Linked DNA regions of Homo sapiens: all the other regions are linked to region 1. Evidence: fine-mapped expression QTL. A gene starts in region 1. Each other region holds a variant in brackets. All regions are shown on one strand. Distances are from middle to middle. Region 1 holds the start of USP53 (ubiquitin specific peptidase 53). Region 2 holds the start of LOC102723967 (a long non-coding RNA gene). Region 3 overlaps LOC102723967 (a long non-coding RNA gene).

The links. PIP is the estimated chance that this variant, and not a neighbour inherited with it, causes the effect.
Region 2: its variant is the best candidate, but not a certain one, in a credible set for the expression of USP53 in unexposed skin (GTEx, PIP 0.64).
Region 3: its variant is the best candidate, but not a certain one, in a credible set for the expression of USP53 in tibial artery (GTEx, PIP 0.89).

Annotation. Positions count from the first base shown.
Region 1 is chr4:119,209,330-119,216,843 of GRCh38, forward strand. USP53 (ubiquitin specific peptidase 53) reads left to right here and starts at 3,384. Exons shown (of 19, transcript NM_001371395.1): 1 at 3,384-3,544; 2 at 4,741-4,893. It overlaps LOC101929762 (a long non-coding RNA gene), which reads right to left and starts at 3,315. Exons shown (of 3, transcript NR_125931.1): 1 at 3,198-3,315. RefSeq lists enhancers at 1-1,146, 2,302-2,876, 2,999-3,118, 3,450-4,023, 3,729-3,778 and a silencer at 3,249-3,378.
Region 2 is chr4:119,093,797-119,101,310 of GRCh38, forward strand. It overlaps LOC102723967 (a long non-coding RNA gene), which reads left to right and starts at 6,336. Exons shown (of 3, transcript XR_001741422.1): 1 at 6,336-6,374; 2 at 6,544-6,697. The variant A/C (reference allele first, on the strand shown) is at 3,131.
Region 3 is chr4:119,110,382-119,117,895 of GRCh38, forward strand. All of the region lies in intron 2 of LOC102723967 (a long non-coding RNA gene), which reads left to right. Among named protein-coding and RNA genes, the nearest start is that of MYOZ2, 22 kb to the right of the region's middle. The variant T/C (reference allele first, on the strand shown) is at 3,323.

The DNA.
Region 1 (7,514 bases):
GTTCTTCTGTACCTTATTCCAAATGAATCATTCTGCCCCAGAACTTACAAAGGCTTCCCATTGTAGTCCTGTACTGGCCTTGTTCAATCCTGTTTCTAAAACTTTGCTCTTTTAAGTTACATATCTTCCTCAATGCCTTCAAATACACTTGCTTATAATCCTTCCAAGCTGAAGTTCATATTTGATCTCCCACAGAAGCCCTCTCCAACTTTAGCCCACACAGATGACTCTATTCAAAAAAATCAACAAAACTTCCAATTTTTACTCCATCCAATAAACACTGCTTGTTAAGCATCTGTGCTAGGCACTGTGCTATGCCTTGGAAACATGAAAAAACAGAGAGCTTAGGTAGTAAGGAAATTCACTTGTCAGTCCTTATGGATGCATTTAGGAAAAAAAGGATTCTGTCTAGTATCTAACCCTGAGTCAGTCATTGATCTACTACTTCCCTATGCTATATTTCACTCTACCCCACCCAGCTCAGTCATGGTTAAGCTGTTGATTACCTCCTGGAACTACTGGGTTACAGCTCCGCAGGACACAATGTTGCTATTCCTACCAGACATTAGTGGCAGGGTGCATCTAGCCACAGGGTAGCACATTTCTCAAAGTCTGAGTTATAATCAATCCAGAATAACACTAAGAGGTGTGTATATGTGCTGGTGGTGTGAACTTTGGCTAAGCCTCAGCTGAATGATCTAGGGTATTCTTTGGCATGCCAAGCCTGCTCCCTTTCATGATCTCTTTGCCTGTGTGAGGTGCAGAGATTGGTCTTCACAAATTTGGGTCCAGCCAATCAGAAACTAGGGAATCAAACCCACACACGTCCCTCAAGGACAAATAGTAAGAATTAAAATATTTTAAATCCTTGTTGTGACTTTCCCAATTACAAATTTTCTGGGAGCAACAGCTGTCCTGCAATGTCAATTTTCCATTTTTTCATGTTTGCTTCAGACTCTGCCCTCTTGATGCTTAAATTGGGTCCTATTACAACTCTACCATTTAAGGATCGGTACATAGATATGCTAAAAACTGGTAGAAAGTATGAAATTATATAATTTTAAAAGTGTATAGTCAGGGTTTAGTCAAATTCTTGAGCAGGGTGAACTGAAGGGTATTCTTCTGTAATTGCTAAATAAGGAAGGGAGGTAGTATAAGCCATTATTATCCACAGTTCAAATTATTTCTCAAGGGTGGAGGTGGGGGTTACTCTGTCAGGTACATTTGCAGAGAAATAAATATAGTACAACATAATTGTTATAAAAATAAGTCCCAAAAGGGATGACAATTTTGTCTCAGAAAGTTATGAAAAGATCCATGGAGATAAGCATTCGAGAGAGAACCAAAGGATCTTGAGAGAACCAAGAACATAGAAAGCAAGGACTTTAGAAAGATTAATGTGGAGGAACTGGAGGAAGAATGGCGATGAGTTTAACAGTGTGATCATGAAAGGCCCTGCCGGTGGGTAATGAAAAATTCTTAGCAGAGAAGTATAATGATCGTATTTTCACGTTAGAAAAATTATTAATAGAATGGAGGTTGGACTGGTGTGGGAAATAACTAGAGGATATCTTGTGAATATTGCAATAGTACAAGGAAGATGAGTCATAAGAGATGGTGATTACTTGAAGGACTAAGACAGTGAGAGTGGAGGGGTGGACCTGAGAGATACTTAAGGAAATAAGAGTCAAAATTTGATATTAGAAAAGAGGAAATGAAGGAAAAGTAACAGGGGTACTCATAGATTTCTGACTTGGGCAGTTGCGTGTCATTTTCTGAAACAGGGAATGGAAATGGTGTAGGTTCCAGATGGGTGAAGAGGGACATGGCATCAGGAACAGATTATAGTAAAGATGTCCATGTCAATTTGGGACATATTTAAGATACTGTGTGAAATCCAAAGGATGTTGCTTAAAAATGTCCGACGTATAGATATACACCTGAGAGTTCTTGGTGCACAGGACACGTGGTAGGTAAATCCATGATGGGAAAGAGACTGCTCAAGGAGACATGGATTAACATTAAACAGAAACAGCAAAAGAAAATGGAGTGCTGGCGAACAGAGACCACGCAGCGGAAAAACAGTATTTAAAGTGCACCAGAAAAGTAGCTGCAGAATGAGGAGAAAATGACATTAGAGAAACGGAGGGAAGAGTTAATGGTGTGCTCTTATTGTTTTAAAAATGCAGAGTAGGATCTTTTTTTCCCCCACCCCTCCCAAAGTTTTTAATATTTTGAGGGCAGAAACCACGGCTTTATTTCATCCTATTTCTGACAGTGCCTAGTTCAGTAAAGGGAACATAGTAAATGCTCAATAAATTCTTAATGATTCAGCCTCAGACATTACAAACGGGTCCTATTTGTCTCCTGTATCAACGACCAATATTTCTTCCCCCTCTTTCTTCAAATAAACTTTTAGAAGTGCCTCTGGGTTTACTGAAATCCATTTTTACAATTAGTATGTTCAACTTACACCAGCTTTGGAATGAGTTCCAAAACCTTCTTTATTTACTTGAGAGATATTCGGTATCAGTGACGATGGGTTTTTCCTTTACTACTATTCCTAAGAAAGGTTTATTCAAAATCAAAGTTTAGCCCAATTCCCAGCAGTACCTTTTAACTTAAAACCTGTTCGAAAGCACGGCAAAGAGGCGGACAGACTTTTCTGACAATCATTAACCAGGTCAACAGACTTATTAAAGCTATCTAATTAAAGGCAAGAAACAACTGCTTGGGGAATACACATTCACGCCACAGGAAGCCATTTAACTGCAAATAGATCGTCTAACGACTCACGGAAATCTAAAGGAAACTGCGTGTCCGCATGGGGTTCTGATGCCAAACTACGGATTGTTCTCTCAGGTAACACCTAACCTAAGTGAAGTCCTTGGTGGATCCGCGTTCTTGAGCTTAGAAAATACCGAATGAACTACCAAGAGCACCAGAATAATCGCCTCCTCCTGAAGAACTAGCCTCTTTCTCACCACACCAGACAGCACGTCCTACAACCACCTTTCCCCCAACAACCAAACTCCAGCGCCAAGCTGCCGCTTTTGCAGAAATGTTCTATCTCTTGGTCTCGCGCGATCTCGCGCCTCCGAGGAAGCCAACTGTATCGCGCACGCCATCAAATCCCCGCGGGAATAGAATTCCGCAGGTCCAGAAAGCCGGGAAATCGCGAGCGGAGGCGGAGTTACCTCGGTGAGCGTGAAGGCGGAGCCCGCTCCGAGGGGCGGGCTCGAGGCGGGGAGAGGGGCGGGGCTCCAGGGACCTGTTGATCGCAGGTGTCACTGGCCTGACTGGTCCCTGGGTATTGGGGCGTATGCGCATGCTCCGCTCACAGGGTCGGGCTCTGGGCGGCGGAGACCAGCCGCCTGTGCTCCAGTTCCCGGTGAGCCTCGGTACTGTGGCAGCAGTCAGTGTGTCTGGCGGGTGTCGGCGTGAAGCGGGGCTGGGCCAGCGGGAGGTAGCTCTGTGGGAGTGGAAGGCCTGTATTTCTCTACCTGGACCGCACGCTCCTCGCGCAAGGAGGGTAGAGCTCAAGGTAAGTCTCCGAAACTAGCCCTCTGGTTGGAGATCCAGAGACCTGCGACCCCCGCGGGCCTGACCGGGACACTCTCATTCTAGCCCCAGAGCTCGTCTCTCCCCTCGCAGCCCGGCGACCTCCTATGGCCCCGGCCCTCTGGGCACACACACACTCTCTTTGCTGGGCGGTTCAGACGCCAGAGGTCACGCAGCCCTTTCGCCCCTTCTCGCCGCGTCTGGCGGAGATGCCTCTGGCCAGGCTGGAGGCGCTCGCGAGGCGGGAGGAGGTGCTGTACTTGTTGGGTCCTGGATGTTATTGCTGCCGTGTTTGAGGGCGGCGACAAGCTGGAGTCCTGCTGGGATTGTGAGTAATACCCTTACTTGGCTCCTGCCCCTGGCTGTCCAAGCCACATTGCCTCGCCTGAGCACACAGTTTTTTACTTAAAGGGGTCCAGGATGGTTATGCTCCCTCCTTGGAGAAGAGAGATGACTGGACTCGTGAGATTCTTGGGGTGGTGGTTTCTCAGTGGTAGTGGTGATGTATATAAAGTTAATGTTTAGCTTCTAAAGGGCGGCTTACGGGGCATTTACCAAACTATTTTTAAACAGTGTTGGAGAACAGGAAGTACTTGCACAGGTGTAATAGGGAGGGTTTCTAAAACCTGCAATCTGAGGATGTTTTGAGGTTTGTAACCCTGCTACAAGGTTTTCTTTATCAATGCAAAGTATGCAGGGAATTACCAGTTGGACAGCAAAGTTTTCCGAAAGTTTCCTTATCTGGAAATAGATATATATATATATATATATGTGTGTGTGTGTATGTATGTATGTATAAATATATATATTTGCAAAGAATATCTAAGGCTATTTTTGAGGTAGGTTTAATAGTAAACTTAACCTGTAGTCCCAGCTACTCGGGAGGCTGAGGCAGGAGAATTGCTTGAACCGGAGGTTGCAGTGAGCCGAGATCGCGCCACTGCATTCCAGCAGGGGCGACAGAGCCAGACTCCGTCTCCAAAAAACAAACAAACAAACAAAAAAACGCAGTACACTTAGGAAGGTTTTTGTGATTAAGATCTGATTCACTTTTAGTTATTAAAAGAAAAGGCTTGCTGATTTTCACTATTTAAAATGAGTAGCAAGTGCTAACACAAAATGTCTGTTGGAAATGAACTTTTAGTTACATTGATAATTGTTATTTTCTGTTCTTTTCAGTTCCGTGATGATGGTCTAAGCAAAGACCCTTCGTCCTGTTAAAGATAAATTAAAAAAAAAAAAAAAAAACCAAAGGGAACAAAACTTACTCTGCAAAAGTAATATATGATTTACCTGCTGTTGTCATAAGAATTCCAAATAGACAAACTCGGTGTAAGTAGGAGTTAATTATAGTCTGAGAAATAAGGTTTTTGTTTTGTATCTCAAAGGCTTTTAAAATAAGCTCCTTGATACAATTTGTGCAGGTTCGTGTTTACTGGTGATAAACCATGAAAGTGATTTATTAAGATTTTTTCATTAATGAAACTGGGAGGTTTGTGTATTTCTTCCTAACGTGTAAAAAAGAGACTAAGAACTGGCCTTTCCTTTTTCCTAAGAATTTTAACAAATATTTTTAAAAATGTATGTAGATTGTGTAAGTTCATGGAATTTGATACTAATAATCAATTCGTTAATATTTTCACTAAACAATGCATAAGATAGTTTTAAAAAAGATATTTTAATGGGAAGGTAGACTTTTCCAACTAGTGTATTCTTTTCCTTAAAAAAAAAAAAAAGAAAAATCACAATACTCTTAAGACCTGCCATATGTGCTGTGATTCAAGTTCTTTTATATTGTTTAATGTTAGATGTTTATTTTAAACTGTGCAGTATCAAGAAATACAACTTTGGTACCATATGGTTTACAAGTTTGTTTTAGCAAGACAAAGTTTAAAAATGAAAATTTTATCTCATTTAAGGTTATATGTAGCTTTAAAAGCCAAAATCAGAATTATTTTCCCTCCTGGAATTGTTTGGAACTCTCTTACTTACTGGGGTAGGAGGGGGTACATTGCTTTACCCTACAACTTTCCGAAAACACAGTTGATCTTTATAAAGTGATGGAATAAACTATCCTACAAAGATGTTTGGTTACTAAAATACTTAGAAGATCCTTTTTGACAGCTTTAACTGTAAGGTATTTCTTGTAGAACTCAAAAACAACCTGTAGAAAGTTGGGTAGTTTATATATTGCATCTGGAAGCATTTTTAACACAGTGTGCTAGGTGTGCTAGGGCCAAAATGATTGCCAGTTTCGCTTACTCTGCTCATGAGCTCTTGTTTTAAGGAGGGAAGTATGCTGATTTATGTTATCTTTGCAGAGCTAGGTAGAAATTAATGATGTTACAAATATAGTATTATTATATTGTTAATTTTATACTGATGATTTTAGAAAATTTTGCATTATGGTATTTGCACATGATAGGAACAAGAAACGGATGCAACCTGCTCTACTACAAGTAAAAATCCTCAAAGGTTAAATTTTAAATAGCTTTATGTAATATTGTAATCTTTGCAGGTTATACATTTTTTAAAATTAATAATAAGAATACCATAGATACCATGTACAGTATATAGAATATTTAGGCAAATAATATTCTGTGCTCTTCCAGGTTAACTCATATCCTCTATCAGGAATTGTTGAACCAAAAGCCCATGATTAGAACTGTGGTCTGTGGTTAGAATTGAGTTTTAATATAATTGGTTTTCTTTGTGATCTTAGTATTTTTTTTTCTTTTTCTTTTTTTTATGCTATGAATTTTATTTTGTTCATTTACAAACATTATTCATAGGGGGCTTCATTAGGCCACCAAAGATGTCCATGATACAAGAAAAGGCTACAAACCATTGCATCTGGCTAAAGAATTATGATTTTACATGAGACTTCAGAAGAGTTGCTTCATATACTCTGCAGTTCATCAGAATTTTTTCTGCAAAATAAACCTTATTCCAATATCTTAGCTATTTTTATGAACAAAATCAGTTATTTGAGGTGTCATGGTATTTTTGAATTAATTTGAAGATAACATTAGTTTTCAATTTTACACATATTACAAAAAAGAAGTTTTAAGAAATACCCTTCCTTTGGAAGTTTTTTACTGCTGCGCTTTTCTGAGTTAGAAGTATTGAATAAACATTATTGACCTCCTATTGTATGCTAGGCATAGTGCTAAACACTAGAAAGTCAAAAGTTAATTAGACAATGTTGGCTGGGTGCTGTGGCTCACGCCTGTAATCCTAGCACTTTGGGAGGCTGAGGCAGGCGGATCACTTGAGGCCAGGAGATTGAGACCACCCTGGCCAACATGGTGAAACCCTATCTGTACTAAAAAATACAAAAATTAGCCAGGCGTGGTGGTGCACACCTGTGGTCCCAGCTACTAAGGAGGCTGAGGCAGGAGAATCACTTGAACCCAAGAGGCGGAGGTTGCAGTTAGCTGAGATTGTGCCGTTGCTCTACATCCTGGGCGACCGAGTGAGACTCTGTCTAAAAAAAAAAAAAAATCATTAAGTAGTTATTTTTCTGAAAACTTATACTTTGGTTGAAAATTTCTAAATCAAGTCTCTGTTGCTGACACTTACTTCAGTCACTTTATCTTTCTTTCTGATCCATTGGCTGTTAACATTTTAACTCATTTTCTCCTTCTCTCCTTTCTAGTCCAGAAAGGTTTTGTAAATGAATATTTACAACAATTCTGTGGTGAAAATCCACTTATAATGTGAAGTATTCCCAAACATTCATTTTATAAATTAGGTTTTTCATATGCTAGATATTCTTAAACTAGGATAGCTCCGTAACAAAATTGCTTATGATTTACTAAGAACAGCTACTAAAATTTTAAAATTAAGAAATTGATATTTCATTGAACAATTTATCTGATCTCATTAATCTGAATTAAAGCAATGGTTAAGTTTAATATATCAGTTTAAGGTATTTCCTTAAAGATAGCAAA
Region 2 (7,514 bases), 120 kb before region 1:
GGCTGAGTCCAGTTCCTGGTTCTGGCCAGGGCAGAATTCAGATTTTCAGGGCTTCAAGCAAAGAAAAGACTATGGAGCCACCATATTCCCATACATATATGCTGAAATTAGGATAATTGTTTTTCTGGGTTTTGTGATTTTGACATTTTAAAAAAGCCGATTGGAACTGAACTTCCAACTTTCTCTCTCTCTCTACACTAACACCTTTCTGGCCCTTACTGATGCTGTGACCTTAGGAGAGTCCCTTATCACTATGAGTCTGTTTGCTCATCTATAAAGGTGGTGTGTCATGATTCTTTAATCTCCGTGAGTCTATTAGTGATCATTCGGTTTCATCTTCTAAAGCAAAACAATTTTAAATACCCCTGCTCTGGCTTGTACATTCTACTGACATGTACAGAGTTGAGAATTCTAGTCCAGATTAGTGAGGACATCCTATGTATGTGGTGATACATCTGATTTTACTTATTCTACAAATGTTCACTGAATACCTACCAGGTAACAGCTGCTGAGTGTACGGTGATGAATGAAGCAGAAATTCTCCTCGCCTTGCCCAGTAGAATACTTCAGTGGAGCTTGCAGTCTATTAACTGTAATGGTGGAGCCTGAGATCAGCCCAGGTGTCTGATTCTAGAAGCTACCCTCTTAGTCACAATCTAAGATGGTGGTGAAGAGCCTGACTCTGCAGTTAGGCAGCCTGGGTTCAAATCTCAGTTGTGTCACTTCCTTCCTTAGTGACCCTGAGCAACTTTCTTAACCTCTCTGTACTGATATTTTCTTGTTTTTTAAAACCAAGCTAAAAATGGCAAATCCAAATGCCCAAAGTAGATGTCCTGACATACTCAGGTTAGAGGCACAACTCTTCTGCCAGAACTTGTGCTACGGCTTGCTATGCAAGGGACAATGGTGAGTTTGCTCCACAATGCATGCCTAGCGTTTGGCCAAAGAGGGAAGAATGATTCTCTCCCCATTGTGTGTCTTAATTTGGCATCTAGGTTAAGCAGTTCTATCCTGATGTCCTATTGAGATTTTAGAGAAAAAACCCTTTTCAGTTTTAACTCAAGGGCCATTTTAACTTTACCATCTTCTCCCCAGATTTGTAAAAATATCCTTGGTGACTTAAGAGATCCTTGGGGGCTACTGGAGACCCAGCAGGTCGTGGTCGAGGGTGATCCAGATTTTTCCTGTCCTCTCATCCTTCTCTTTGAGCTTCCCAACATCTGCTTTTCCCTCAAAATAATTAATCCACTTCACAAAAAGATATTACCAAGAAATGTCGATTTACATAAGATTTTATGGAAACAAAAGACAAGACAGTTAACAACCCATATCCCACAGATGACCACTTGAAAATTCCTGTTGGACGTTTCACCATTTCTCTTCTCCAGACTCCTCTTTCCTGCCACGTTACTACCAGTGGTCTCCCTCTTTCCCTTCAAGGGTGCCCTGCTTCATTGCTCCTCTCCTCCTGTTCCCAAAGGCCAGCCTCCTTAGAAGGCAGTGGGGGTTACAAACACCAAAAAAAATTTCAAGTAGACAAGTAACAGATGCTTCCCCATATTCAAAAAACCCACCAGCCCATCATCCTCAAAGCTTTAAAACTGGGAAAACCTTGTCTACCTGTTCCCTTAGGATCCATCCTTCACTAAGACACTCTTGGCATTTCGTGTAATTAGTCTCCAGTGAGGCCAGTCCTCTTCCCACCAAATGTTACCTGAACACTAGTGGCGAGCAAGCTATGCCCTGGTTGAAATAAAGATGCTGGGTAACATGTTCCATTTTCTTCCATCTTATCTCTTCAAAGCAGCCTTGCAACACAAAGCTGTGCCAAGAGCATTTAATTTTCACCACTGTCCTTCAGGCTTCCAGCCTTCTCTGAACGTGCCTTCCCACCTCCCACCCCGAACAAAACTGTCTGCTTTCTACATGTTTTCCACAGTACCCCTACTTGCTTCTACCTAACATTCAACATCTTGTAATTTCTTATTTGCTAATCCATTTCCCCTAGTAGACTGTCTATGAAAGGAGGCATGTAGTTCTTAACCCAACTGGAATTTTAGTATACATTTGTTGAATTAACAGATGAAGGAAAAGCATACGCTTTACTATTAACTATCCTCACTATAAACTAATATATGTCATTGCCTTTGCGGCTAACCTCAGATGTCACAAACCTACAATGCTAAATCTGTCATACTAAGGATCCTCTGTGCTTTTGTTAAGTTTATCCAGGCTATGGTTAACTTCAGAATTCTCTCCTTTCCAGTGACTGCGAGGGCCTTATAAAAGATGCTGCAATGAGGCCGGGCGCGGTGGCTCACGCCTGTAACCCCAGCACTTTGGGAGGCCGAGGCGGGCGGATCACGAGGTCAGGAGATCGAGACCATCCCGGCTAAAACGGTGAAACCCCGTCTCTACTAAAAATACAAAAAAATTAGCCGGGCGTGGTGGCGGGCGCCTGTCGTCCCAGCTACTTGGGAGGCTGAGGCAGGAGAATGGCGTGAACCCGGGAGGCGGAGCTTGCAGTGAGCCGAGATCCCGCCACTGCACTCCAGCCTGGGCGACAGAGCGAGACTCCGTCTCAAAAAAAAAAAAAAAAAAAAAAAAAGATGCTGCAATGAATTTCTTTCTTTATTTCATTTGCTTGCTTATTATTCTTATTCCTTCTACATAAAACGAACAAACAAAACAAAACAAAAGCACAAGCTCTGGTGGCAAATAGACACGGATGTGAAACCCAATTTCACCACTGCTAGCTTTATGATCGTGAAAAATTAGTCTTTTAGTTTCAGTTTCTTACCTATAATACTTACATCCATATCATAGGATTGTCAAAGAATTAACTGGTACATATCAAGGCCTCCTGGTACATAGTAGGATGTTGGTAAATATGAAACCTATTAAATCTCTTTTTTCTCTTACCCCTTTCTCATAACTCCCATTATTACAGCCTCAAAATGCTTACCACCTGATTATTCAGTACACGAGCTGCTTCTCATATTTTCTTTTTATCTTGGTATTCTACAGTTTCACAATGATATAGTTAGGTATAGATTTGTTCTATAGATTTATTCATCCTGTTTGGGCTTCTGCAAGCATCCTGATTTTGTAGGTTGGTGTCTTTTATTAG[A/C]TCAGCCATTATCTTTTTAGAAACTGCTGCTGTCTATTGTCTCTGTCTTCTGCAACACTGATTAGATTTATGTTAGTGACTCTTCATACTAGTCTCCAAGTCTCTTAACCTCTCCTTTATTCTTTCCTTTTCTTTTCTTTTATTCATTGAACTTCATTTTGGATAGTATCTTCAGAGCTACTATATTCTTTTGTGAGCTGTGTCTAATCCACTATTCAATCCATACATGTATTGTGTGTGTGTGCATGTGTGTGTGTATGTATGTGTGTGTGTGTGTGTGTGTATGTATCTATCTATCTATCTATCTATCTATCTATCTATATATATATATATATATATATATATATGCAATGAGCTGCTCATTTTGGGAGGGCTCTGTTAATGAAAACTCTTTAAGACCTGGGGAAAAGATGGGTTCCAATAGAAGGGATTTTCATTTGTTTCTGTCACGTGTCTTTACATTATCAGCCTAAGATCACTTGAAACTAACTCTTGGCTTAAGATTTTTCAAGCCACCACAGGTAATGGTAATTCTGTCTTCAAATACATATGAAAGTTAGTTTATGGTTAGACATTCTCAGGGGATTTTTTTCTCAACTCTGCTTATTACTAAGGTTTAATACAGGCAGTTTTCCTTGAAATACCTAGAGAGGGGCAATGTGCACAGGACATGCATGTTTATTGGTAGTTCACCTTGTATATCACTAAGGATATAGTTCTCTAGTGTCTTTACTTTATAGAGGGTGTGTATCTTATTAAGCTTCCCATACTAGGCAAGCCCTAGACTTTGTTTTCCATCCCCATAAAACTGCAAAGATATACAAACTAAAGTTCAAGTTCATTCTGCGGCAGGAAATACTCTCAGAAGATGTATTCTGATATTTGGCTTACCTCTCTAGGTCCCCACCTTCATTTAATTTATAGCCTGCATGTTCTAGCTCATGGACACAATTCATTTTTTTTCAATTTGCATTTTAAGTTGTTTTAGCAATAGGCTTAGTTTGAGCACCCAATACACCAGGTTACCCTTTGTAGTTTGTGCAGTCTGATATTGGGTCAAGTTGCCGGATCACCTTGCTTGGTGATCAGCCTACTACAAAGTCACAGTATTTAAATCATTATGCTGAGATGTATATGTCAATGAGGTAGTTGCATTATCTTTCTCCACTTTTTTTCTGTAACATTGCTGTACATCATAACGTTGTAAACACTGCTGTAGAAGAAAGAGAAATAAAGAAGATAAAGTTAACAAAGAATCCAAATTTGGATCTCTTAAAGGCTGGACTGTTTTCTTTGCCTTTCCCTGATTAGGACTCTGCTGAGTTGGCCTTCACATTAGGAAAATTGATTATTTACAAATGTTTGAACATTTTCTCACTGACCCCATGGTTGGGTGTGCCTTTGGGATAACAAAAGATGAACAAGCTAAATAGATGTAATTTTATCCTTCTTTTGAAGGAAATGTTGAAAGAAAGCAATACAAAAGAGAAGTAGAAATTTATACCTGGATTTCAGCATGTGAATTTGTTTCCATACACACACTCCAGAGGCCTAAAATAGAGTCTGAGACAATTAATGCTGGAAGGGAAAAGAGATTCCCCAATTCAACCCTGTCCTCTTAGTGATGAGGAAACCAAGTCTCAGAGAAGTTACATGACTTGTTTAACATCGCAAAATAGAACCATTTTTCAGGACTGGATCTCCTGATTCCAAGGAACTGATTTCTTTCAAAGATAGCATGCTCTCATGTAAAATGCAGGTTCCATTTCACCAAAAAATAATGAATATATTTAATAAAGTTAGTAGATTTAGTAAATTTAGTTTATCTTTTGTAGTATACAGAAATTTATGTGAAATAAGAATAAAGAATTTATTGGAACTCAAAAATGAAACAAAAGCAACTGTGAAAATTAATCCTTTCCATTATGCAGTGTAGGATTAATCTTTTAACTCTCCACTATCTTAGTTGTCTTTGCCAGCTCGGTAATTAGAAAACTAAGATACATCGATGGCACTTAGGGCTGCCATAATTAGTAAAGATAAAACTTTTATTATTTACATATATTGCATTTTGAAATAAACTAAGAAATTTGTTTAGACATTTAGAAATAAATATCCTCATCAGGAATGTCTTCTCTGCCATCATCACTAATTATAAGACCCAAGTACATTATCACTAAGGAGCTATATAGCACTCTCTCAGTGAGGCTGAAGGTTGAAAGTGAACTGGAAACCTGCTAGGAGTAAACCTCAGAATTCAGTGAAATAAATGAAGTCAGAACTAGAGACAGAGAGAAGCATCAAATATCCTCTTCATTACTCATGATAAGGCAGCAGCAAATCACACTGACCTAGGAACCATGAAGTTCTCTTGGTATTAAAACCACTCACAAAAATGACCTTATCAGGACATCTCTGACAGGTCAGTGTTGATGCATCCACTAATAGCACAGGAATAACTGTTTATTCAGAGCCACATGTTTTTATTTTTATCTGATATTATGCAATTTTGAATTTCCCTCAAAGGGAGCAGTAATAACCCACACTTGAGATTATTTTTGGACACATTAGAGCTTTAACCTCCTATTTTAAAAACAGAATCCAAGATTCCAATAGATAACCCAGGCTCTCTCTTGCCAGTACATTCCAGTCTCCACAGGTTCACAGAATTTTTAGTCACCTGGGAATAATCAGATCCAGATGAGATTTTTATTTATTTTCTTTTGTTTTAAGTAAGGACACTGAAAGTTCACTTATCTAGTATAGGGTTTTGTTTCACATCTGCAAGAGATCAAAGTTAGTATGGGAAGTATCTCCGGCATGGGTAAGTTGTGAAATCAAAAGAACTGCATGTGCCAGTTGAGTTTAGTTTTTGGATAAAGTCTCATGAGCAAAAACTGAAGACAGGGTAAACATATTATATATCAATAATAAAAAATGCCCATCAACACAACATAAAAGGGGATTACTCTATAGAAATCAAACTTCATGTGGTAAAAGAAATGTTAAAATTATTAGCAAAAATTGCCAAGAGTACCTATTAAAAGAAATATCATTTCTCTCTTGACAGTCTTCTCTCCAAAATGAACTCAACAATGCAGACACTAGCAAAGAAAAAATGAACACTTCTTTAAAAATCATGCTTTAAGTTCTGGGATACATGTGCAGAACGTGCAGGTCTGTTACACAGGTATACACGCGCCATGGTGGTTTGCTGCACCCATCAACCCATCATCTACATTAGGTATTTCTCCTAATGCTATCCCTCCCCTAGCCCCCTCCCCCGACAGGCCCCTGTGTGTGATGTTCCCCTCCCTATGTCCATGTGTTCCCATTGATGAACACATTTTTAATACTATTGCCAAAGGAAAAATTTCTCTAACTTAAGCTTCGTATTTCCAAAATTTGTTTAGCAATTTTTAGGACTTTTCCTCCTGTTGGAAATTTGATGAGCATGAAGAAAAAGCTTAATGGAAGAAACAAATCCGAGGAGAGAGTTTATGGAAAATGGAGAAAGGACAATGAGAACCGACAAAGATTGAATAAGAGAGAGTAAAGAACAAGATGGTGACGTAGACTACTTATTCATTCTTTCTTTTTTCCTTTCTGCCGCAAGTATTTGTTAAGCTTTGCTAAGTGCCAGGTATTCTTCTAGGCACTGGAGATATAGCAGGGAACAAAACAAAGCACTTTCCTTTGTAAGATTTATATTTTAGTGTAGGGGCTGGCCAACTTTTTCTATAACAAGCCAAATAGTAAGTATTTTAGGCTTTGAGGGCCATGCAGTCCCCATTAGGACGTCTGAACTCTGCCATTGTAATGCAAAAGTTGTCACAGAAAGACAAACATGTGGCCATGACTGTGTTCCAATAAAACTTTATTTACTGAAACACATGACAGGCCAATTTGTCCTGTAAGCCATAGTTTGTGGAGTGCAAAGGAAAGAAGGAAGTCCAGGATGACTTCAAAGATTCTTGCTTAAGCAACTTAGTGACCATGACAATAAACAGTTTCCATGGAGCAGTACAGAGAAACTGAAGAAAGCAAGTGTAGACAAATTTTTATGTTAAAAGGGAGCAAAGAAAAGGACCACAGAAGGTGTTTTATTGTGCTTGTCTCTATTTGCAAGGTATTTTGCTTTTGTTTGATGTGAGAAAAAAAGCATAGCATGTTTCTATGATGATGGAAAAACTCCAGTAGAAAACAGGGCTGGGTGCAGTGGTTCATGCCTGTAATCCTAACACTTTGGGAGGACGAGGCAGGCGGATCACCTGAGGTCAGGAGTTCAAGACCAGCCTGGCTAACATGGTGAAATCCCTGTCTCTACTACTAAAAATACACAAATTAGCCCGGCATGGTGGTGGGCGCCTGTAGTCTCAGCTAC
Region 3 (7,514 bases), 99 kb before region 1:
CATTATTATCTGCTTCTGGCATGGTTTTAAAAGTCTCTCAGGAGCTTGCTCATAGTTGATTACTATACCCATTGTCAAAAAAGGAATTATCCAGAAATTAGCACATTCTTCTTCAAATAATATGATCTCGGTTTTTTTTTTTTGAGACGGAGTCTCGCTTTGTGGCCCAGGCTGGAGTGCAGTGGCGCGATCTCGGCTCACTGCAAGCTCCGCCTCCCGGGTTCACGCCATTCTCCTGCCTCAGCCTCCTTAGTAGCTGGGACTACAGGCGCCCACCACCACACCCTGCTAATTTTTTTTTTTTTTTTTTTTTGTATTTTTAGTAGAGACGGGGTTTCACTGTGTTAGCCAGGATGGTCTCAATCTCCTGACCTCGTGATCCGCCCGCCTCAGCCTCCCAAAGTGCTGGGATTACAGGCGTGAGCCACCGCGCCCGGCCTTTGATCTCATTTTTTAATTAAAAAAGTAACATATAAAAAAAGTACATTGTAAAAAGAGGTAAAGAAAAATATATGGAAATAGTGATCTCATTAATTCATTTTACACTGATTGGATATCTACTGTATACAAGGAGGGATTTTGTTAGGCATTAGACAAAAAGAAAAAGATGAATATAATACAGTACTGATTATCAAGCAGTAGAGACATAAAACATATATTAGATACCAAATTCCACATCAGAAGTATGAATTAAGAGCTATAAAAACACAGAGAAGAAAGAGAAAATTAAATAAAATATGGGAAAATGGAGAATTTCCTTGGTTTTAAGGAAGACATACATAGGACTACTAATGGGAGGATACGGATTAGGAAGATTGAGTTTCCCATCACACTCAGCTAAAAGTCCTCTTCTCTCCCCCTCCTTAACAACCACAATTTTTGTATAGGAGATATAGTAAATATCAAAGAAAGCCATTAGAATAACCAAAAAATTTACAAAAGGCAGCATGCTGAGAAGCACATGTGAAAAAGAGGATTGGCCCATTCACTTTACAAAGTGAAGGATTTTACAGGGTGATTGTGTACATGGGACCATAACACCAACCAGAAAATCCACTGTCACCTTTATGCTCCAGTGCCCACCTCTTACCACATGAATGAATGTGGTCCCAAACTCAAGGCCCAAACTTTATTTTCTATAAGACCATTGAGGTTCTCATTATGCTTGGAATAGCTCCAAGATAATTAAGGTAAAAAATAAATAGACCAAGTTTATGTAATTTCATGAACCAACCTTCCCTTCATTTTGTGGTCTGCTTCACTGTAGGCAAAATTCAACTCAAGAATAAAGAGCAGCAAATGTTTTCACAGTGTGTCTACCCCTGGTTGCCAGCCAGAGCCATGTTTTCAAGCCCTGTGAGAGTGTAATGATTTGACTTTCTTCAGAAAGAGAAAATCAGCAAAATAGTTCTAGTTTTGTATCTACTCTCCAGTCCCCACCTTCACTTGTTTGCCTTTCTGTATATCTCATTTATGCATTTTCTCCGATACTTATTTTTCAGATTTCTAAAACAACCTCGAACATATCTATTGTCCTCTCATTCAGAGTAACCTATGGAAAAGCACCATGCCTAGAGGGAACGTGGCCCACTGAACCTAAATAGCAACTTGGAAAGCCTGGTTCTGGAATAGAGTAAATCTAGAATTTGATTAGTACACCATGTGTAGCAGAGCAAAGTGATGAACTTCTAAAAGATATTGTGAATTTGGAAAAAACAAAGCAGAAGGGATAAATTGTCCTAGTTTATGATATTATCACAAGCAGTTATAGTATTATGAAAATTAAAACTAGTCTCATTGAATAATAACAGATACAAACAACTAGGGGTCAGTTTCTGGAAAGGCCCCTAATAAAATCAAACACAATTTTCTATTCTTCTCTGAATTACATTTAAATTTATTCAAGAAAATTAACAACAACAACAGTAACAGGTAAGACTGGATCTTTTAGTTCCCACCTAAAAATAAAATCAAATGATCCAACAACTCCTCTCTCAAAAGTCAGGTTTGGGATCATATACAATACGAATAGTAAGTGTCCACCTTAGTTTGCACTTTTCCATGATTCAGTAAAAACTCTTTTTTAAAAATGTCACATTTCGTTTCTTGCCTCCTCTACCCTGTGAAGGCACTGTAGAGTTACTATTTATAGAAGTAGGAAGATGGTCTTATGGAAAGAACACTGGACAGATCTAGATTTTTATCCCGACTTTACTCTGCAAACTTAAACTAGTAATTTAATCTTGTTGAATCTAATTTTCTCATTTTAAAATGGGGACAAAAGGATTTTTCCTTGCTTTACTTGTAAGGTTTTCATGAGTATCAAATGAGATAACATATATAAAGTGCTTTTAAAAAGTATAATGTTTTTGTACACTCTTTACTAAAGACATGTAATGAGGCACTTACTATATTTTATTCATATTTTTTTCAAGCTATTTTAAAACACATACATATGCTTAATTATCACAATATACTATTTTATCAATTCTTTTAAAGTAACCAGCATACACTAAAGCAGGTTAAGCTCATGGACTTTTGAGTCAAACTGCTGCTTACTAGGGCAAACCTCTTAGTCTACTTCTCAGTTTCTTAATCTATAAAAGGGTATATAATACTAGTACCTCCTGTTAGGACTAATCGGACTGTTGTGCATATTAAATACATTAAAATCTGTAAGGTACCTGGAACAAGGACTGTTGTACAGTAAATACTGAAAAATTAGTTTTTCTAAGAATAATAAGAATCTGAAAAGATATGTGAATCAGCTGGCATCTTTATCACCAGAGGAGTTAGATTTACATATCAGACCATGTGATACATTTACTCTCTCAGTGGGGACAGTGGGGGGGATGTAGTCACCTGTTTCTCTTAAATCCACTTATATATTCTATCCAAAAAGAAAAGATCACAAAAACCTGGAAATCCTAACTACCTTTTTTTTTTGCAATTGTTCTCAAGAAAGAAAAAGGATATAAACAATATGACTCACTAGCAAGTGAGAGGATGTAGCCAAACTCCATATTCCAGGCTTCTACTTCCTGTAGGTGGTTAACTTTTTGATTTCACAATGCTTAGTCATAAGAAAATGGAAGCAGTGGTTAAAGACATTAAATGAGAATGTGTCCTCATAGTTCCTAGTCCAGAGATCCAAAATAATTTATTATGCCTGGAAAAGAGCAAAATAGCCTCATGGTCCTCATGGACACAATAGAGCCCTGTCTTAAGAAACATCTTAGGTTTGCTCTTTATCTTATCAACCTGTGTTTCAACAACTGTCAGCTAAATTCTGAAGACATGACTGGGATATTAGTTATGCTTC[T/C]TATTGAAAACTCTAATTGTTTTGCACCATTTTTATCCCTGTATCAAAACACAGTAAAAAGTTACCTTCTCTATGGTAACTAAGCAACAAAGACATTTTTTTTTCTTCTTAAGGGTTTCATGAAGTTACATTTTTTATCTTTTAAGACTAAAATCCTTTCTTTTTCCTAAATAATCCAAATAATAACTAACACTAATTACTCTCTGGGTATTACTTTTAGTGTCCTTCATAAACTATCTCATTTAATCCTCACAACAACCCTATGGGTCAAGAACTGATATTAATTCTATTATACAGATGAGAAAACTGAGAATCATAGATGTTTAATAATTTGCTCGTGGGGATGCACTCAGCAAATGTGAAAGCTGGGATTTGAGCCCAGGTAATCTAGATTAAGAGTTCATGCCGATGTATACATGAGTATGAACCTCATGAAAGAGATAAAGAGCTAAAAAAAATCAATAAGGCTTGGTGACTGCTTAGATGTGGTTGGAGGGGTAGCTATGAAACATTCAAATAAAAGATGAAGAATAAGGGAAAGTTTAGAAAAGAGTGAAATAATCAGTTTGACCTTGAACATGTAATAAATTATTGAACAGCTACGTAACAGAGTGGTTAAATCAAGAACTATTAATCTGTCTTCTAGCTAGGGTCCTGGAGGAAAAATCATATAAATTTTTTAATTATAAAAATTTAAAAACATATTCTATTTATTTAAAGACACTTTTAAAAAGTAATAATGTCTAATAAAGAAAAGCAAAATTATTTATTTCTTCCACAAAGAGAACACCATTATGTAAAAAATATTTCTTGTACTCATACGTATGAATGCGTACACACACACACACTACATAATTGTATTCATCTTAGGAAGTTCATGATTTGTTTTTCTTATTTTCTAGTAGCTAGCATAGGGCTCAGTATGTATGAAACAGTAACAAATATTTGTTGAGTCAATGAATGATCCCAAATCTATCCCCTTTTCCTCCATTTCCCCAGCTACCATGTTAAAATCATTCTTCCATGCTATTCTAATAATCTTCAGGTGGTCCCATTGCCTCTAGTTTCATTTCCCTTGAATTCATTCCCTGAATTGCTGTCACAGTTATATTATTATTATTATTATTATTATTATTTTTCGAGATGGAGTCTCGCTCTGTCGCCCAGGCAGGAGTGCAGTGGCATGATCTCCGCTCACTGCAAGCTCGGTCTCCCGGCTTCACGCCATTCTCCTGCCTCAGCCTCCCGAGTAGCTGGGACTACAGGCGCCTGCCACCATGCCAGGCTAATTTTTTGTATTTTTAGTAGAGACGGGATTTCATCGTGTTAGCCAGGATGGTCTCGATCTCCCGACCTCGTGATCCGCCCGCCTCGGCCTCCCAAAGTGCTGGGATTACAGGAGTGAGCCACCGCGCCTGGCCCACAGTTATATTATAAAATGAAAATCTTCCTACATTTTAATCATGAATCTTTGATGGCTTTTATTGCCTATGAAATAAAATGCAATTCCTCACCACTCAAGAGTTTTTCCAATTCAGTCCTAATCTGCTTTTCAGACCCGCCTTCTGTGATTCCTATCTCCACCCTCATCCTGTTTCAGGCATCAACCTAGTCACATTAGACCACTTACAGCTCTCAAAATACGCCACGGAGCCTCACTCTTGCACCTCTACTCATGCCCCTCCTTCGGACTGAAATATCCTGTCCCGGTCTTCCCCATCAGCCAATTATTTGATTCATCCTTCAAAGACAAACTAAACAAAAACAAAAACTCTTCTGTAATGTCTTCTTCAAACCCTTTCCCTATTTTCCAGACAAATTAATTGCTCTTTCTTGCATTTCCAGAGAAATAGTCCCTACAGTTACAACTACAGTTTTGTAAAACTGCAGATCCCCTGACCTCTTGCTCATAGAGATTCAGATTCAGTAGGACTCAGGTGGAGACAGAAATCTGCTTTTTGAGCAGCACACAACATCCCAGCCTAAGCAATGCTACTTCAGAGCCAGACTGAACTCTGGGTTGTTGAGCATTAAGCATTCTCCTTAAAGCCTGACTCAGAATCATGCTAGTAACAATCAGAAGTAGAGCATGTTGGGCTCCATACTTTCAGGTATTAGCAAAGCCAATCATTGTTTTTGATATGTTCTATAGGTATGCATCCTGGGGAAGTAAAATCAAGCTCTGCTTCTTCACGTTGTTCAAACTAGCAGGGAAACAGAGGGATGGAAAACATAAAGCAAGACAAAAGCACACTGTTAAATATAAACAAAAAAAGAAAGGAAAGGACATGTGGCACGTAAGTTGACCTCTAAGTTGCCTCTAGAATATTGCGCTCATGGAAAACAAGTGAGGAGGTAAACTAACACAATGGAAGTAGTTATGAGCGAATATAATTTGGAGCCATAAAGGGCCTTGGCTGGTCCCAATCATCACAACTGTTTTCCTAGAATGGCGTCAGTAGTTCTAACCAAGTCATTTTGAACCAAATTCTTAAGATTTTTCCCATTAACAAAGATATGTGACTCCTTTTGAAGATTTCAGTTCAAAGCAACTCTAAAATCCATCCGCTTCTCTCTTGGATACAATATGCTCATTCAATGAGTAAGTGCCCAGAGAAGAAAAGTGCATTAATAGAATCTTTAGAATGAACAGCTTTAGAGACAGAAAGACTGTTAAAAGATCTGCTAGACCATTCTTCTTAATCTTTTTTATAAGAGTACATGTGGAAAAATGATATTAGTATGGCATATTGGGGTAATGACATGAGACTGCTAGAAACTCAAAAAAGTGACTAGCAGGAGCTCAAGTAGTCCCAGACAACACCTAGGGATCAAAAAGATTAATACATCCTAGAACATCTATAATACATATTACTTGGGAAGATATAATTGATAAACTAATGCAATTCGAGATGAGAAAAAGCAAGCCCTACAGAGTGGCATGACACCCCAGAGGCTAACAGCGTCACTTAGTCGAAGTGCTAGCTTTGGGTTTTCACGTGCCTCTTAACAGTGATGCCAATCAATCTGCCATTGAAAGTTCATCCATTCTGACAATTGTTGGAATCATTTCAAGAGATCCACAATTCATTAAGGCACTCAGCATTGGTAACAAACTGAAAAAAATGGTATCTCCTACAAATATCTGTACTATTTTCCAACTGTATTTAAATGCAAGTTGGAAAAATAAAAGAAAAATTCATGTCTTAGGTCATTGAAAAAAAGTTAGATAAAATATTAAAAGCTCTTTTAAAATGAATGGAAGAGGCTCTCAGGAATTAAGTAAGAATCTAAATTTAGGGAAATAAGTGAGCACTGCAGCAACTGGGTTCCCTGGGAGTACCCACACATCCAGGCTGCCGGGAACTTTGCATTTTCAGAGAGCAGAGAGTTTCATTAGTGACCACCAGCACAGAAGCCATGCGCAGGAAGGTCAGCACATGGAAAAGAGTTCACTAGAACAACATAAGTAAACAAATGACCCCTCACACAGGAAGGCAGCAAGCAAAAGTGTCTGGCAAAGATTTGACTGTGGGAGAAAAGGCTCTCCTGAGAATCTGTACCACTGGAAAGTCCAGACATGAATTTAGGATCAAAATTTGCACTGTTTACATGGTAAGGAAAATTACAAGCTGAAAGTTTTCCTTTCTGGACTCATTTTAAACTAGTTCCAGACCTGTAATGTCTGCAGACATGTGGCAAAAAGAAACACAGATTTTCCCTAGAGAAATGAATCCACAACCTTGGTATTTATTAGAAAAGTGCAAAGGATTGTGTTTTATTGCGAATACAACTTCAGAATCAATTTTAAAAAATCACAAAATACATTTGAACTAAGCCATTGCATGCAAGTGTCACAGAAATAATAAACAACAGAAACTTGAATATTGGAAATGTACAAATATAGGGAATATATTATAAATTTTTTAGAAAAATTATGTGTTTAAGGAAAAAAATTTTTTAAACAAGAAAGAGGTAAAAATATGACTAATCAGCAAGAAATCAGGCAGAATTTGAGGGCAAAGTTCTCCTAGAAGTAAAAAGTATAATAATTAAAAGTAAAAATTCAATGTAAAGGTTAAATAACTTGGATACAATGGAGTAGAGAATTAATAAAATGGAATGTTCTTCTGCAAAAGAAGAAAAAGAATAAAGCAATAGAGATAAAAAGATGCAAAATATTTTAAAAGAG